Regions from separate parts of the Homo sapiens genome. Here regions 1 and 2 are each linked to region 3. The links come from fine-mapping of genetic effects on gene expression. A gene starts in region 3. Each other region holds a variant in brackets. All regions are shown on one strand. Distances are from middle to middle.

What was found. PIP is the estimated chance that this variant, and not a neighbour inherited with it, causes the effect.
Region 1: its variant is the best candidate, but not a certain one, in a credible set for the expression of LINC01963 in skeletal muscle (GTEx, PIP 0.65).
Region 2: its variant is the best candidate, but not a certain one, in a credible set for the expression of LINC01963 in esophagus mucosa (GTEx, PIP 0.56).

The regions. Positions count from the first base shown.
Region 1 is chr2:216,138,073-216,142,072 of GRCh38, reverse strand. It overlaps XRCC5 (X-ray repair cross complementing 5), which reads right to left. Exons shown (of 21, transcript NM_021141.4): 12 at 3,894-3,984; 13 at 754-887. Among named protein-coding and RNA genes, the nearest start is that of XRCC5, 31 kb to the right of the region's middle. The variant G/A (reference allele first, on the strand shown) is at 2,321.
Region 2 is chr2:216,258,858-216,263,166 of GRCh38, reverse strand. It overlaps MARCHF4 (membrane associated ring-CH-type finger 4), which reads left to right. Exons shown (of 4, transcript NM_020814.3): 4 at 3,488-4,309. The coding sequence ends at 3,855. Among named protein-coding and RNA genes, the nearest start is that of MARCHF4-AS1, 42 kb to the left of the region's middle. The variant A/T (reference allele first, on the strand shown) is at 1,688.
Region 3 is chr2:216,214,386-216,218,737 of GRCh38, reverse strand. It overlaps LINC01963 (long intergenic non-protein coding RNA 1963), which reads right to left and starts at 1,849. Exons shown (of 1, transcript NR_037701.1): 1 at 1-1,849.

The DNA of each region.
Region 1 (4,000 bases), 76 kb after region 3:
TTTTTTTTCTTTTTTTTTAAAGACTCGGTCTCATTCTGCCGCCCAGGCTGGAGTACAGGGTCGTGATCTCGGCTAACTCCACTCTCCATCTCCCAGGTTCAAGCAATTCTCCCACTTCAGCCTCCTGAGAAGCTCGGATTACAGGCACGTGCTACCATGCCCGGCTAATTTTTTTATTTTTTGGTAGAGACAGGGTTTCACCATGTTAGCCAGGCTGGTCTTGAACTCCTGACCTCAAGTGATGCACCTGCCTCAGCCTCCCAAAGTGCTGGGATTACAGGCATGAACCACCGCACGTGGCCAAGACTTGTCTTCACAAAAATTTTTACAAATGAGCCAGGCATGGTGGCATGTGCCTGCAATCCCAGCTGTTCAGGAGACTGAGGCGGGAAGAGTGCTTGAGCACAGGAGTTTGAGGCTATAGTGAGCTATGATCACAACACTGCACTCCAGCATAGGCAACTGGCCTTCCTGTATTTTTTTTGTTAAAGTAAGCTTCTTCCAGGAAAAAAAAAAAAAAAAAAAAAAAAAAGAAAAGAAAGAAAGCATTCCAACTTTATTTTTCTTTTTAAGAGCTCAGAATATTTTTACCTTCTGAAGTAGGAGAGGAAGATGTTATTCTTCCATTAAATAGAGCAAATGGGGCCTTCAGAGAAAAAAGACATTTATTTAGGACTGGCCAATTACCGCAACTTTGCACTTAGCTCTCTTTCATTTAAAAGAAATATGACTTGTTCATCCTTCTTCTCTTACCTGAAATAATCTCTGAAATCGAGGATTTGGGATTTTGGTGGTTGGAAACAAGTCTTCAAGGGTGTCTGTCTTCTCATCTTTCTTTGCCAAGCTCATGGAGTCAATCAAAGCATCAACAGCATTCAACTGTGCCTCTTAAACAGAGAAGCCGAAAGAAAAATGATTATTTCCATTATTCTCCACTAAAACAAATGCTTTCTACGTAGAGATATCCACGGCAATATTGGCAGGTTATACAGTCCTGGCCCTGCCAAAGTATTCTCTAGCTATGCACGTATTTAACCCAAGTCTTGGTTTTCTTATCCATGAAAAGATCGATTTAGAGTGACTGACTGATTAGGTTCCAGTTCTACCATTCAGTGAGCCTCTGACAATGGAGTATCAGATCAAAAGCAAGAAAGTTTGTTTCAGAGGAATACAGCCATATAAAAACCAATCCCTATAAGGAGACTGGAACAAAATATTTAGTATCCATTGAGCTAATATTTTAAAAACTAGTAATTAGCTAAAGAAGAAAAACATTAAAAAGAAAAAACCTCTCTGGTAATGAAGCATAAGCATTTTAATGACTTTAATATAACTTTTATCAGAGTACAGCACCTTAACAGGAAGACACCATTGGATCAGGGTGAGCTGATTCCTTCACAATCTACTGAGGCTGAATAAGCTCTCTCCTCTCTTAATGCCTCCATGACACTACTCACACCTGCGTACATGTCTTGCCCTACTCCATTCAAACTCTCAAGTTCCATGAGAGCAGAAATACGACATCCTCTTTCCTTAGGTCTCTCCTAATACTAATAAAAAACAAGTGCTCCTCAATAAAAATCTACTCAGTCAATAAAAATGGTACAGCCCAAAGCAATATGGACGAAAGGCAATTCTCCCAAAAATACTTCTGCCTAAACTACTGTGTGTAACTTTCATTTTACTGATTCATACAGCAGTTCAGCTGTTGAACCTGAGGCACTATTTCTGGAACATTCACAGTCACCAGGCAAAAGGTGGAAAAGAGTAAGTAGTTCCTAAAAAGTACATTATACTTCTATTCTGCACCTTTTCAAATATCCCTTTTGTACAGCTACAACAAAATAAAAGAGCATACAGATATTTATCATCAGATATTTCTTTTTTACCCATTTATGGACTTTTCATGGTGAAACCATGGAGGTTTCAGGCAATGGCACAGCCAACACCATCTTGAACTTGCTAATTCAAGGCCCTCCCAGCAACAGGTAGGGGGCAGTACTTGTACATGTGAACATTCAGTGATTTTCACCTACTACTACAAGGTAGCAGGAGGCCAGATCATCCTGGCATTGCATTCCTACATAGACATCTACTGGGAAATACATGAAATAACTTTAATGTTCCATTTTTCCAATGGAGAAAATGTAAACAAATGTTAACTCACAGAAAATAGATAACAGAAGATATTTAATGTTTCAGATCCTGAGTGATTTATGTCGACAAAATAAATTATCAATAAACTGGGTTTTTAAAAATATTCTGGGCTGGACGTGATGGCTTACACCCATAATTCCAACAGTTTGGGAGGCTGAGATGT[G/A]AGGATTGTTTGAACCCAGGAGTTTAAGACCAGCCACAACAACATAGTGAGATTCCATCTCTACAAACAATTTTAAAAATGAGCCAGCCACGGTGGCGCGTACCTGTAGTCCCAACTACTTAGGAGGCCGAGGCAAGAGGATTGCTTGAGCCAGAATTGGCTGTGTCCCCACCCAAATCTCAACTTGAATTGTATCTCCCAGAATTCCCACATGTTGTGGGAGAGACCCAGGGGGAGGTAAATGAATCAGAGGGGCTGGTCTTTCTTGTGCTATTCTCATGATAGTGAATAAGTCTATAGATTTATTCACTCCAGATCTGATGGGTTTATCAGGGGTTTCTACTTTTGCTTCTTCCTCATTTTCTCTTGCTGCCACCATGTAAGTGCCTTTCGCCTCCCACCAAGATTCTGAGGCTTCCCCAGCCATGTGGAACTGTAAGTCCAATTAAACCTCTTTTTCTTCCCAGTCTCGGGTATGTCTTTATCAGCAGTATGAAAATGAACTAATACACAGGGAGTTTGAGGCTCCAGTAAGCTATGATCACGCCGCTGCACTCCAGCCAGGTGACAGAGTGAGACCCTGTCTCAAATAAATAAATAATTAAATATTCTACTCATTTAAATTTTGGAATTATCAGGAAATAGAGACAGAGTAATACTGTAATACAGTGGCAACTTCCATATAATCAGGTCCATGCCTGCCTCCACCGTGATGCAGACAGACTCATTTCTAGAAGGAAGATAAAGATACAGGCCCTAGGGACCCATCTGATTCTTGGCCTTTCTATAGCACACTACTTCCAAAGGGTCTAGCCAAAATAACAGAAAGAATTGAGTTCCGAGACTCACCTCACAATTCCCTAATCTTAACACAGACACAGACATTATATATAAACTTGTAACCTAAAACATCTACTCATCATTTGTTGTTCTTTTTGGTATGTTTTCTACTTCTGCCCCCTATTATATTTTATTACAATTGTTTTAAATGACAGGCTCTCTGGAAGACTGGACCTGTGGCTCTAAGAATAATTCTATATAGGACCCTGACATTTGCAGCCAGATGCTCAATCAGGAGCTTTCACATCAAGCCTGAAGTAACTCCTAAAAGCCAGAAATAAGTAACAATGAGACTTGGACTGTTGGTGCAAACTACAAAAACAGGGCAAAGAGAAAAGTTAATCTTCAGCACTGTCACTTTTCATTTCAAAGCTACATCAGACTTTACACAGAACACTAAAGTCACAGGTTTGATACTGCTCAGATTCACTTCGGCAGGGGCAAACTCTGCTCACAACTAGAGATGGACATCCATTACCATCAAGCTTTCCCCTAGGTACATGCTCCAAGGCAAAAACTAGACAGTGTTGGGTGAGTTTAAGGCAAACCTATCCCTACTACTGGAAAAACACCAAGTAAACCACCTTCATCATTACTGTGTCTAAGTGTATGATTGGAAATCCAACTAATTGCACCCTATAAATACCTAGCCCCAACCAACAACTAGCAGACAGGTGATTTCCCAAGAACAGTGTGTGTAGTCAATGAGTGATCTAAATGAAAACAAACTCACCGGTGGGAGCATATTTCTTACTGTTTTTCAAGGATGAAAACATGTATTGCCGCAAGTCTTCCATGAAAGGCAGCTGCACATACACTAAACACTAATGAGAAAGAAAG
Region 2 (4,309 bases), 44 kb before region 3:
GCATGAGCCACTGCGCCTAGGCGAAGTGCATCTTTCTTTACCACCCATTTTCCCTTCTGGATGCTGTTGGATACTGGCTGCCTACTCAGTCCTCAGATACCCTCACGCACCTGCTCATACACTCCCCCTACTCCTGTCCTCAGCACTACATAGATCAGTGCTTGGCAGAGATGGGCCTGTACCCCGGAGGCATTTGGAAATATCTGGGGTTTGTTCATTTGTTTGTCCGTTTCCTAATGTAGTTGTACCATAGCATTTTCACTGAAATGTATATTGTTTTGTTATAAAAGATTTCCCTTTATTATTTTTATTTTATATTCTCTTTTAGGGCATTATATTAATTTAAAAGACATAGTAGCTATGAATTTCATTTCAGGATGGGAATGATGATGTTAAAATATATTTGTTATAAAAAGGGGATGTTTGGTGTGATAGCATTGAGGATGGCTGATGCAGATAGTCTTTCCAATTCCCTGCTCCAAAGATCTTTTCCTCCAGCACACTCCAGCCCCAATCAAATAGTCACATCCTAGATTCATAATTGCTAGTAACCACACCACCTCCAAAATCTGGATTTAAACATCCCACTCTCCGACCATCACCCCCCATTCACTGACTCCAATAATCCTCTAACCTCATAAAGACTTGGCCTTGACTCTCTCACTTTCCACTTTTCATTATTCCTTATACCTTTCGTATTCTCATCCCCAGCCTGGGCTCCATGGTCCAGCCTGATAATCACTCTCTTGCAAGTACATATAATTCTCATGTCTGTTTGCCCAGGGAAACCGTTTACCCTGATTAAGCCCAGGTTTCTTCTTCTTCCACATGTGCACCTGAGCAAGCAGTTTGAAGGGGTGGAGAAAAATCACACAACCAGTAACTAGATTCACTTCAGATTTATGGCTACAAATCTCAAATGGATACTTAACACAGTGAGCTAATTCTACCACATCTCCCTTGTAAATTCACACTCCTACTTTCCGAGATAATTATTTCCCACCTTCTCCTCTCTCCACAAATCTTTAACACTTCCTCTCTTATCTCTTCTATCTTAGCTGATGACTTCATGGGAAAAAAAATATATGTGTACTTGGATGAGAACTACCTGATTTTCTTGCTGTCATTTCTATCATTCTCCCTCCTTCTGTGCCCATGGAACTGGTGGTCATTTCCCATTTTACTCAAGCTGACCTCTTGATAACATTGTAAAGAGTCACTGCACTCTTTCTGAATCCTTCCCTAGGCTTTTGGGTCTCCACACTTGCTGGTCTTGCTTCTACCCCATTGGTTGCTTCTTTTGAGCCTCATTCATTGGCCCTATCTCCACCAAAGCCTCCACCAAGCCTCTAAACACCTGAAGTCCAGGGCTCTGTCTTTGGCCTTCTTCTCTTCCCTAAGAGGTCTCAGCCATTTCCAAGTCTTCAAGTTCTACCTCTACAATGATGGCTTCTATCTCCAGGCCAGACCTCTCCCTAAGCTTCAGACTCATATGTCCAGTTGCCCATCTGACCCTTCTAGTTAGATTTCTATCAGACACCTTAAACTAACCATGACCAAAATGTAGCTAGTAATCACTCTGATAGGCTTGAATCATGGGCCCCAAAGACATCCAGGTCCTAATCCCTGAACCTGTCAATGTTACCTTATATGGAAAAGGACTTCGCCAATGTGATTAATTTAAGGA[A/T]CTTGAAATGGGGACAGTATCCTGGATTATTCAGGTGGGCCCTAAATGTAGCCACAAGTGTTCTTACAAGAAGGAGAGGGAGATCTGATGACAGAAGAGTAGTAGGAGAGGTGAGAACAGAAGAAAGAGGCTGGAGTGATGCAAGAACGAGGCAGAAATTGCAATTTCTAGAAGCTGAAAAAAGGCAAGAAGACAGATTCTTCCCCCTCAAAGCCTCCAGAAAGAACCAGAAGGTGCCCTGCTGACACTTTCACGTCAGCCCAGTGGGACTGATTTTAGACTTCTGATCTCCAGAACTGTAAGAGAAACATGCATCCCATTTTAAGCTACTAGATGTGTGGTATTTTGTCACTGCAGCAATAGGAAATGAATCCGGTCACCGCAGCCACCACACAAATCCATAGCCCGCCTCTGGTGCCCTCCACTTCTCAGGAAATGGCTTCCCATTCATGCAGCTGCTGAGGCCAAGAGCTTCGAAGTTGTCCAGATCTTTCTCTTCACTCCCACCCTGCGAGTCAGCAAGTCTTCAGCTCTACTTCCAGCACACAGCCTGACTCCAGCAGTTTCTCACTGCTCCACCACCATGACCCTAGTCAATGCTATCACCATTTCCAACCCGCATGACATCACTGCTTCCTGCTTGGCTTTCCACTCATTCTCTTGGCCCTCTTCACAGGTGCCACAGGTGGCTTTATGAAGGGTGAATCAGATCACATCATTCCCCCTACTGAAACCGTCAATAGCTTCCCATTATACTCAGGATAGAATGCAAATCCCTAGCCATGGCCTATAAGACCCTACCATCCATTGGCCTCTGCTCAACTTACCTCCCTCCACTTCCTCACTGCTGCACTGTATTGGTCACACTGACCTTCTCTCTGACCTTGTTCATTCCATTCCCAGCTCCTGGCCTTTGCACTTGGAGTTCCTTCCACCGAAGTGCTCTCTCTCCAGATCTTTGCATGGATCTCTCCTGTTCATCACTTAAGTCTCAACTCAGATATGATCTCCTCCAAAAGGCCTTTCCCACCACCCTTGCTAAAACAGGATCTCAGTGCCTGCAGCCAGTGGATATTTAACCCCAGTTATCTTCCTTAAGGCAATTGTCAGCACCTGAAATTGTCACTTTGGTTTGTTTGTCTATTGTGTGTCTCCATGAAGATGTAAGCTCTCAGAGGGTGTCCTGCCGACTGCAGTATCCCCAGTGCTTGGCACACAATAGGCACACAATGATTATTTATTTGCCTTGCTGCCTGGTGTAACTTGTTTCCAACTCTATCACTGCCTCTGGCAGATATAACTGCATCAAAGGGCTGTTTGTATCTCAGTAGTACTGGGGTATCCATGCAAAGAGTTAACCAGTGGGATTTCTAGCAACCTTTAGCAGGTGTGGAGAAACCATGGGTTTTCTTTTGTGGTGCTTTAAAAGCACACAATTCATTCAACATCTGCTAAGGACTGGGTGCCATGGATACATAATAGAGGGAGGAAAAGATATTTATATTATGCCTTAGTGGATGAATTTGGATTTTGTCGAGGCAGGAAGGGGGTGGGGTGGTGTAGAAGTGGGCGAAGGCACTGCCTGAAGGTGCTCAACTATTTCATGGACTCGGTCTGGTGGCCCCTCCACCTTCTGCCTACTGGAACTTGCTGAGCCTGGGAATCTAGGGATGGTCCTCCCATGGCTCAGCACTGGAGCCATTGCCCATACCTTGCATAGATTCAGAGAGACTGTGGTCTCCTGGCCGTGACCCACTTCCTCTCATTTGGCCTCTGTTTCTCCTCTCCCTGCTGCCTCAGGTCTCATCATCCATGAAGGACCCTCGGTGTACCGCATCTTTAAACGGTGGCAGGCTGTCAACCAGCAGTGGAAAGTGCTGAACTATGACAAGACAAAAGACCTGGAGGATCAAAAGGCAGGAGGCAGGACCAACCCCCGGACCTCCTCATCCACCCAGGCCAATATCCCCTCCTCGGAAGAGGAGACCGCAGGCACCCCTGCCCCTGAGCAGGGCCCTGCCCAGGCTGCCGGCCACCCCTCAGGCCCTCTGTCCCATCACCACTGTGCTTATACCATCCTGCACATCCTGAGTCACTTGAGACCTCATGAACAGCGAAGTCCCCCAGGCAGCAGCCGAGAGCTGGTCATGAGAGTCACGACAGTGTGAGAGCAGAGGCCCGGAAGGAAGGCCATGACCACCACTGAGGGCCCGGAGCAGGGTGGGGAGGTGCAGTGGCACCCCCAGAGCCAACAGAGGGAGCAGGCAGAGGGTGGGGGACCTGGCGGGAGCCCTGGGGTAGTGTCAGAGCGGGAGTGAGGCTGGTGCAGGAGCAGTTCTGCTATTTCCAATCAGTCAATGCCACTCTCCACAACAACAATGAAAACCAACACCAACTCAACAACAAAGTGCAATACAGGCTGAACCTGGCCCAACAGAAAAACCCTGCCCCAATGCACCTGCAGGCAAGGTACCCGAAGAAGCAGAGGCTGAGGGCAGGCAAAGCCTGTGTGACTGTGGCAGTGCCGGAGGCCAAGGGGGCCAAGAGGAAAAGCATCTGTGGTCTGCTCTGCTCTCACCCTGTTTGGTTTTGTTTCTCCTGGGGCTGTGTTCTGCAGGCAGC
Region 3 (4,352 bases):
TGCAAGTGGCCCATAAAAGGCATCTAACCCTGACACTGTTGGAGGATCCAGGACCCAGGGAGTTGGAAAGAGGGAAGGAAAATCTTTAAAAGAGGGAGCCAGGTGAAGCGACACACTGCAATGTGACTGACCTGCTGAGATTCCAAGACCTGAAACACAAACATACATGTGCACGCACACCTCCTCCCATCTAGAACCCAACTGTTTTTGACTTCTGTTCTCTTAGCGGGCTTCCCATTCCTCCTATGCCCCCAACATTATCTGAGAGGCAGCTGTCTGTTTTGTAGGAGAAAAGAGATAGTCTGTTTGAGTGATGCACACTGGATCACAGAGCAAGTTATGGACAAAGATGGAACTGTCTCTGAGTGTCATTACTTAACTTGCTAATCCACATAGGGCTGGGGGTATCCACTCATAAAAAGCAGGGCAGGACATTTTAAAGCCAGACAGGGGCTGTGTAGAGAAGGAAGAAAAATAGAATTGCAGGGACTGATAATGGAAGTATTTACTGTACACTTACTATACACCAAACATTTTATGTGGTTCATGCTCATTTAATCCTGACAGCCCTGAAAGTTAGGTTAACATAAACCCTATTTGACAGGTGCAGAAACTGAGACTGAGAATAGTCAAGCAACTTGGCTGAGGTCACAAAGCCAGGATATAGTGGCAGGTTTTGAAAGAGGCAGTTTGATTCCAGGCTCGGCTCTGATAATATTAAGCGGGCATTAAAAAGCAGGCTTCTGGGAGATGGAAAAGGAGTGGTGGAATCATCAAATGGCATGGATGTTGTACATAACTGAAGCCCTGGATTACAGAATTAAAATTCCATGTCTGTACTCCTCCCTCCCGCTCCAGCTCCACAGTTGGCGTGGGCCAGCCCAAGGCTACTGGTGGTGGGAGGAATAGCTTCATGTCCTCAAAGCACTCACCTAAATTCTGGTGTAGGGAGAGCTTAAAGTCTGTGGAAGAGACCCAGCATGCCTTTCCAAGTAGGTCCTGGGTTAGAAAGATCTGGGAGGCCTGTGTGTTAAAAGAGATGGCAGGAAATGATTCAGCTCTATATCTGTAAAATCTCTGACAATGACAGGATGTGAGGAATGACAGGAGGATCAGGAGGGCTGGGCGGGGGTGACTGAAATGTACTGACCCTGGCTGCAAACTAAAAATAAAATCCTAAGTCCCCTCCACCAACTGAATAGAAACGCTCTTGGCAAAGAGGACCCCAGAAAAACCTTAGAAACTGAGTTCCCAGCCATGACAGGACAAGAGGTCAGACACACCTCATTATACTCCCCTCCCTTTTATGGTTTAGACACAACCAACCAGCATTAATGTCAAAATAGAGGTCATAAGACTGACCAAACACACTCTTTGTGGCAACAAGATACCAAATTACAAACAGGACCTAAGGCCATGCCAAACAAGGGTTAAGTCATGCAGCCCTACACTTAAAAGAATAAACTATGTTCTAACTGCCACAAGTTTTCCTTTTCTCTAGCAGCTAAATAAGCACTGGCCTCTAAATAAACAATACTAAAACACTTGCAGCTCCACCAGATGCTGACTAACTGAACTCCACCAGCCATAACTACAGCTTTGATTGGACAAGAGTGATTTCGGTAATTTTCTCCTGGTAAGGAGCCCACCGACCATGACTGGTTCTAGCGGGTTTACAGAGATTGCATACTTGAGTGCCTTCATGTCCTGAATAGACCTTTTGATGTATAGGGCCTGATTGCAATATTTAAATATTAAGTCTCCACCCCAAGGTGAACATGTGTCATATGTAAGATGCATGTTTAATATGCATGCATCAGGACCACTTTCATTAATATTCATAGCTCCTCCTGTAACCTGTTGAATATGTGTTAAGCCAACCCATTCAGCATAAAAGCATAAAACTCCTACCCCAACCCCTCCTCCTTGGAGGTGCCTGTCTCTGGGCTTCTGCTGGAGGAGGCTGTGCTTCCTGGCCTGCAGGATGGCCACCTGGCAGGCTGTCACCCTTAAGAAATAGTGTCTCCATTTTTCTAAATTTGTATCTTATGATTTTTTTTTTAAAGTTAACGTATCTGGCAAAGATGGGATTCTGAAGCAGCCCCTGAATTCCTTTTCCTGTGTCACCCAGGACACCAGGTACAGCCAAGGTCCCTTTGAAAAAGTCCAGTTGTTCCTGACTATGCTGGGAAAGGATCTGGGTAAGTGCTATCAAAATCCAAGATCTCCCACTTTTAGGTTGCAGACTTGATTTCTTCTTTTAGGCCTCCTCCATCTGTGGAACTCCGGAGGAGACCCTCCTGCTGGCCTTGGGTTTGGGAGGGCATTCCTAGTTCTTCTCAGTCCTTTCTGTTCTCCTCCCTGGACCCCGGAGGGAACATCTCTCCTAGCCTTGGGTTTGGAGGAGGCCTTCCTGATTCCCTCCATCCAAGGGCCCTGGAGAAAATGCATTTGTGGGCTCCGGGCTTATGGAGAGGCATTCAGGTTGGATTCAACTGGTTCATAAGGTTTGTGGGGATGCTCACACTAAGGGCACTGGAAGAGATATCTTCATAAAGTCAGTGCAATAGGTAACTTACCCACTAGGGGCAGGAACTCCTGTAGAAGTTCAAAGGCATGCCAGGTTTTCCAGCACTTCAGCTAGCTGCATATTGTGGCCTGTTCTTGTGCACATTTTAAAACTGAACGGGCAAATTACAGCAAGGAAAATTCAGAGCTCAAATGCCCAACCTGCAACTATACAATTAAAATGTAGAGTTTTCTAAAGCTATCTCTTTTTTGTTTTCGGCCTGCTTTGAATTTGCTGTTATTAAGCTACTGCTGTTAAGATAAAACTCATTGTTTATGATACTACTAATTCAAGGCTACTTGGAGCTTTCTTTACAGTTCAGCCAATTGTAGCTAAAATGTAAACACTGAAAACTCATTTGAAACTTCAGGAAAAAAAAAAGGGGTAAAAGGTTTTTAAAAATAAAACTGCCATGAAAACTACTTTTCCCAAGACTTTGGTCCATAGCCTTCATTGGATTACCTACTGGGACAAATAAAGTTTAGCCATGTGAACAGGTCCCAATTTTGTCAGAAATAATTTGGATCCAGCTGTCTTTTGTTAAGTGGTGAGTCTGTATTACCATCTCATGGCTAAGGTTCCAGAGTAAAAGCTGTAAGATCTTTGTGTGTATGTGTTTAAATGTTTGTATATGAACATGTATTATGTTGTGTTGTATCTAGCATGGTACCAAACTGGTTTATAAGTAAATTATACTCATAAATTAAGTAAGTCCAAATACTTTTCAGATTCATGTGAACTTAGTAATCTGGTAAATAAAATGGTTTTAAAATTATTGGTAAAATAAAACTAGAAATGTCTTCAGAATTGTCAGCATACATTTTTTTTTTAGTCTGGGTTTACTGATTATTTTATATTTGCCTCCGCTAGGTGTTTTAAGGTATCAGGATTTGGCACAAAAGATTATAAGACTATAAACCCAGTCAAAAAGAGAATGATCTTTGTGTGAATTTTTTGACAAATAAGACTAATTTAATATTGTTGGTTCAATGAAAACAGCTAAGTTGTTAGCTGTTTTGTTAGCTTCTGAGTTGTTGGCAAAAATATCCACATGTTTAAGGTTCTGACTTAAATGAACATCTGATATTCACAGGCTACAAAAATGGTTAACAGGTCATACAGGTTACTAAACAGCTGATGACTCGTCACATAGAACTTACAGGTAAGTCACTGTTGTAACCTTGCTTTTTGGCTCTTCTGTTGCTCAAAAGGTTTTTAAGGGTTAATGAGTGCCTGTTCACCTCCATCCTCATCTGGCCTAGAATGTTTAATTGGCTCCAAGTCCCTTGGCCATAAGGATCCCACCAAAGAACAGAATGAACCTGCAGCAGGTAGCCACACCACCCCGGCAAAGATATGGGAAAAAATAAATGTTTGGTCACCAATGTCATCTCTGGCACATCTTGGCTAAAAGGGGAGAATGTAAACTCAGCCTCCCAAAGTGCTGGGATTACAGACATGAGCTACCATGCTTGGCCAGAAACACGTTTCTAAAAATTGTGACGTGATTCTCATCTTTAAAGTGCTGATAGAGAACAGACAATTCAATATTTCTTGCCTCCTAGGTTTTCACTAAAATTTAAGGTTACTAAGAGTAAGAATTTTAGTTAATATAGAATTCTATATATAAAATGTGCCAAATAAATGTGTTCTTATGGAGAAAAAGAATAATTTTATTTAATTTGGATGTTATTTAAAGGTTAGTTATGAAAGAAGGTAGAAAACCAGTAAGTAGGAGAGATGTGAAAAAAGTTAGCTATGAAGATGTATTTTTGGTAAGGAA